2 linked regions of the Homo sapiens genome follow. The protein of the gene in region 1 purifies or fractionates together with the protein of each later gene. This does not show direct contact. Each region holds a gene or a part of one and is shown in the gene's direction. Other genes may lie near its edges.

Region 1 (2,316 bases):
TGTGGATTGATTGCTTTGCCATCCCCACAGCAGCTTTTGCAAATTGCTTTCCAAACTCACTTGAATGATGACATTGCTGTGGACCTGGGTTCTGGACCTGATCTGCCACTTCAAGCTGTGTAATTTTTGGCAAGTTGCTTTCTTTGCCTGGTCCTCAGTTTGCCCATCAATATAATGGGTGGATTGGATGATTTTTTTTTTTTTAATTGAGATGGAGTCTTGCACTGTCACCCAGGCTGGAGTGCAGTGGCGCGATCTTGGCTCACTGCAACCCCCGCCACCTAGGTTCAAGTGATTCTCATGCCTCAGCCTCCCAAGTAGCTGGGACTACAGGTGTGCACCACTACTCCTGGATATTTTTTTGTGTTTTTAGTAGAGATGGGGTTTCGCCATGTTGGCCAAGCTGGTCTTGAACTCCTGACCTCAGGTGATCCACCCGCCTCGGGCTCCCAAAGTGCTGGGATTACAGACGTGAGGCACCACAACCAGCCTGGATGATTCTTAAGGGCCCTTCTAGGACCAAAGTTCTGGGAATTTCTAGCTTATTCTGCCCCCTCATAGCCCTTGGCCTATCTATCTTTATCCACATGCAGAAACATCTGGCAACCCCACATGGCTGAGATGACCTGGTCCTAGGACACCCTTGGACAGAAGACTGGCCTACCTAGCAGACCTGGATTTTTCTTCCTGATCTGCTGCTTCCAAGTTGTGTGACCTTGGCTAAGTCACTTAACCTTTCTGATTGTCATTTCGCTTTTTAATAAAGTGGGTCTGGTGAACAAGAAATGTAATAAACACGTGGCTTGCCATTCAAGAGATGAGTCTGACCATTCACTTTCTGTGTGCCAGAGAAGAGAGATCATGGGTATAGACCAGCCCCTGGAAAGGCTGCTTTGGTCAAGGCTGAGAGCAGCTTTGCTCAAGGAAATTATTCACGAAGGTGACCACTGTCTTTCTGACCTGGCACAGAGGAAATGTTGGCTGTGAATGTGACCAATAGAAAGAAGCCCGTATTTCTCAGTCAGTCCTAGAACCCCGGTAAGTAATTAACAGAGAATAAAAATGTGTTTGTTAAATGACAAAGCAGCAGTTTTTCAATTGTAAGGTCTGCTTGAGAGCCTTTGATGTGTGTTTCTTTTCCTGACTTTTCCTTTCTTTAGAATTTTTGATGGTCTCACCTGGTGGGTGGGGCTTTCAGGGTATGCCCACAATGTACATTTCTCGGCATCTGTGCCTCAGTTTCCTCATTTATAAAATCCCTATGATCTCTGTCTCACCTACTTTACAGGGTTGCTGTGAAGATCGCATACTACACACAGGAATGCTCATCAGTTTTTAAATTTTATTTAATTTTTATTTATTTTTTTTTAAATGTAATTTTTTCAGAGAGATAAGGTCTTGCTATGTTACCCAGCCTAGTCTTGAACTCCTGGCCTCAAGTGATCCTCCTGCCTTGGCCTCCCATGCTGCTGGGATTACAGGTGTGAACTACCATGCCCAGCCAGCTCCTAAGTCTTAAGGCTCTGTGTTAGTGATAGATGTGGCCATGGTGTAGGCAGTGCAATGTCTTCGAGTGAGAGTGAAGGTGGTAACTCATTGCATGGATTCTAGAGTTCTGTTTATTCTAATCCAAGTTCTTCCACTTAAAAACAATGTTCTTCCTCTCATTGAGTCTCATTCCTCATCTATAGGATGGGAATAAGAGCATGTACCTGGCAGGTTGTTGTAAGGATTAAATGGTGTAAAAAAATGTCAAGTGCTTGCAACTTTGAATACCAAACTTGAGTGAAAGCTCAATAAATTGTTACTTAAAAAATTTTTTGTCTCGCATATTGTAGATACCTGATGTATATTTTTGTTGATCTAGCAGGTCATTAACCGTTAAGGTTATTCAGTCTGCCTCAGACCTCAGCTATTTCAGTGCCATGGGGTATATTTATGTCAATAAAGATTTTAGTCAAATCTCTGGAATTCAGCATCCAGAGATAATATAGCAAGGAGATAAAGAGCAAGCTGGTGACTTTGGGCCAGATACTCACTCTTACTGTACTTTCTGTACCTAATTTCCTCATGTATTAAGGGGGGAGTGTGATAATAAGGGGGATTAACGGGAGTGATTGATGTGAAGCACAAAGCCTGGTCCACAGTAAGGGCTCAGTCAGTGGGGGCGTTTCTTCTGCAGCTGCTGGCTGCTGTTGGCTCCTAGTTTATGTTATCCTATGTTATCTTATAGTTGAGTGTTTTTACACTTAGGTCTGTGATTCATTTTGAGTTAGTTTTTCTGAAGGTTGTAAGGTCTCCATCTGGATTAATTTT
Region 2 (3,500 bases), on another chromosome or scaffold:
ATGGTGGCGCGCGCCTGTAGTCCCAGCTACACGGGAGGCTGAGGCAGGAGAATGGCGTGAACCCAGGAGGCGGAGCTTGCAGTGAGTCGAGATCGCGCCACTGCACTCCAGCCTGGGCCACAGAGCGAAACTCCGTCTCAAAAAAAAAAAAAAAAAAAAAAAAAATTGGGTAGACCAGTTCTTCTTACTTTACTCTTCTCAAAATTGTTTTAAATATATTAGTTTCTGTACATTTCCATATAAAATTTAGGATAGTCTTATCTATACCTACAAAAAAATCTTCCTGGGATTTTGATAGGGATTATTTTAAACTTGTGTATCAGTTTGGTCTCCACTGACACTGCAAAACTTCATTACTGGTCGGTTGGTTGGTTTGAATGTCCAGGATCCCTCCAGGTCCTTCTCTGATTCTACACTAGTGGAGTGTGTTGGGGTGCTTGATTGTAGGTAGAAGTCCAAGCTCTCCCCACTTGGCCTTTGTAGCGTGCCTGGGGGTGGGATTACAGTTTTGTGTGTGTGTGTGTGTGTGTGTGTGTGTTTGTGTTTGGCTGGAGTAGAATGATTATTATCTAAAACTTTTCTGTCTTCCTAGGCTGCCCTTTGTATAGTTCTTTAACGAGAAAGCAGGCTTTTATTGGGGGGTTTTATTGTTGGCATCTCTTGCCATTTCTGATTGCTGGGATCTTTAGTGAGCTGTAGGAGGCAGAAGAAAACCCAAGGAACTCATCATATTCCTTGGGTCCTGAGGTTCATAGCCAGTCTGCCTTATGCTTGTTTTATATATAATGTCCAGAGTTTTATTTGTATTTTGCTGGCGGGGCAGGGAAAAATGTGCTTATCTTCTTGCAAGCTGTGTCCACATTTTCTTCTTTTAATTATAAAAATTTTGAATATTTAGAAAAGTCGTATAGGATAATGAACATGAACCTATCTAGTTTCTAGTTTTAAGAGTTGTAAATGCTTTTCAGTATGTCTTAATCTATTTTTTCTTCTTTTTTGAGATGGAGTTTTGCTCTGTTGCCCAGGCTGGAGTGCAGTGGTGCACTCTCGACTCACTGCAACCTCTGCCTCCTGGGTTCCAGCGATTCTCCTTCCTCAGCCTCCCAAGTAGCTAAAACTGCAGGTGTACACCACCATGCCTGGCTAATTTTGTACTTTTAAAAGAGATGGGGTTTCACCATGTTGGCCAGGCTGGTCTCAAACGCCTGACCTCAAGTTATGCGCCCACCTCCCCAAAGTGCTGGGATTACAGGCATAAGCCACCCAAAGTGCTGGGATTACAGGCATAAGCCACTGTGGCTAGCCAGTCTATTTTTTCTGAGGTCCTTTTAAAGTAAATTATAGACATAATGACATTTCACTTCTAAATATTCAATATGCATCTCTAAAAAATAAAATTTTTGAATATAAGGACAATACTTTATATCGAATGATTTATAATAACTTCTTCATATTATCTAATATCCAGCTTATATTCTGATTTCCCTAGTTATACCCAAAATTTCTTATAGCTTGACAGACAAAGAAGAAACAATCAAGAACATGAACTGCATTTTGTTGTTAGGCTTTTACGCTTCCTGTTATCTGAAACAGTTCCTCTCCTACTTTTTCCTACTTGACATTGATTTGTTGAAGAAATAGTTCCTGTTGAACCTTGGAATGTCCCATTGTCATTAGGGTTTTGTCTGATTGTTTCATTGTGTTTCTTTTTTCAATATACCCAAGATAGTACTTCATCCTTGTGTTTCTTTATCTCTTGTATTTTCTATAAATTTGAAGTTAGATCCAAAGGCTTGATTAGATTCAAATTTGGTGAGAATATTTCATAAATGATGCTACGCTAAGCAGATTTTCATAAGTTGATTTTATTTATAACTTTTATGTGGTAGAGAATATGCCTTCTGCATCCTGTGATACACTACTGGATGACATCGAAGATATCGTGTCTCAGGAAGATTCAAAACCACAAGATAGGCATTTTGTAAGAAAGGATGTTGTCCCGAAGGTACGAAGGCGAAATACCCAAAAATATTTGCAAGAGGAAGAAAACAGTCCACCAAGTGACAGGTAAGCTTTTTTCCTTGAAATTATATTCATTTTCTTTTTTTTTCTTTTGAGACAGAGTCTTGCTCTGTCGCCCAGGCTGGAGTGCAGTGGTGTGATCTCGGTTCACTGCAACCTCCTCCTCCTGGATTCAAGCTATTCTCCTGCCTCTGCCTCCCTAGTAGCTGTGATTACAGGCACACACCACCATACCTGGCTATTTTTTGTATTTTTAGTAGAGATGGGGTTTCACCATGTTGGCCAGGCTGGTCTTGAACTCCTAACCTCAGGTGATCTGCCCACCTTGGCCTCCCAAAGTACTGGGATTACTGGCCTGAGCCACTGAGCACGGCCGAAATTATATTCATTTTCATTCCAGGGAGAAGCTGACGCTACTGGTCTGTGTGATATATATAATGTCTCTTCATTAGAATCTTTGAACTTTTGATAGGAAATACAAGTTGAGTATCACTTATCTGAAATGCTTGAGACCAGAAGTGTTTCAGATATCACATTTTTTTTTTTGGATTTCGGAATATTTGCATTACATACTTTCCAGTTGAGTATTCCTAATCCAAACATCTGAAATGCTCCAGTGAGCATCCTTTGAGTATCATTTTGGCACTCAAAAAGTTTCAGATTTTAGAGCATTGTGGATTTTGAATTTTTGAATTAAAGAAACTCAACCTGTATGTAGATTTTTTTTTTATTTGAATGATTTTAAATTTGGCAAGGTAATTGGTTAAAAAGAAATGAGATGTCAAATTGGATGTTCCTAGAAGATAGCCTCGGGCAATAGGGATCTCTTGGGTATTACTGTAGTTGATATGTAAGTCTGTGTTATTTCCAAATAAAATTTTTACCAGAGTTTGTGATTCTTATGAGACAGTAGTATTTTGGACATTTGAATTTTCTTAGCTGATTTTCAAATACCTGTGGATCAGGTAAAGGCAGTGGGCACAAATAAATTATTGCCCTATTTACGCTATTATAGTAGATCTCTAGTCCGTGAAATTTTGATACAACCTAACCAGAAAGGATAATGTAATTATATGGTTTTAATAAGCCTATATTTGTTTATCTAGTCAACTGCTGAACTTTATAATCTGCTTATTTTGTTGGGAAACTAAGCTTTTAAATTCTTGGAATTTAAAATTTGCTTATATTTTAATGACTGAAGTTTATAAAATTTGTCCTAAATGTGTCCTTAAGGTAATTTTTATTTACTTATAAATTATTAGAGCAATCCAAGTTGAAAGTCCTTTTTTCCCCTAAAAGTTATTTTTAGAACTCTGATTTTATAGAGTGCTTTTAATAATGCTTTAGGATGACGGTTTTTAACTTTGATTAAGTTACTTATATCTGTAAGTTTTAAGGAAGCTACAGATTGCAACTAGTATGTAGGAATCTGTAAACAGACATACTTTTCTTTATTTGCCATTGCTGCTAGAACCACT

The links.
Region 2: the proteins of TMEM268 (region 1) and CDKAL1 purify together in Homo sapiens (affinity purification with mass spectrometry; one large-scale study listed by BioGRID and IntAct). This does not show direct contact.

What each region holds. Positions count from the first base shown.
Region 1 is NC_000009.12:114,644,607-114,646,922, forward strand, and holds the end of TMEM268 (transmembrane protein 268), read left to right. Parts: 3' UTR 1-1,816; downstream 1,817-2,316. UniProt on the Homo sapiens protein: Stabilizes cell surface expression of ITGAM and participates in the adhesion and migration of phagocytes during bacterial clearance.
Region 2 is NC_000006.12:20,544,457-20,547,956, forward strand, and holds part of CDKAL1 (threonylcarbamoyladenosine tRNA methylthiotransferase), read left to right. Parts: intron 1-1,882; exon of another isoform or gene 1,883-1,889; 5' UTR 1,890-1,894; coding exon 1,895-2,067; intron 2,068-3,500. UniProt on the Homo sapiens protein: Catalyzes the methylthiolation of N6-threonylcarbamoyladenosine (t(6)A), leading to the formation of 2-methylthio-N6-threonylcarbamoyladenosine (ms(2)t(6)A) at position 37 in tRNAs that read codons beginning with adenine.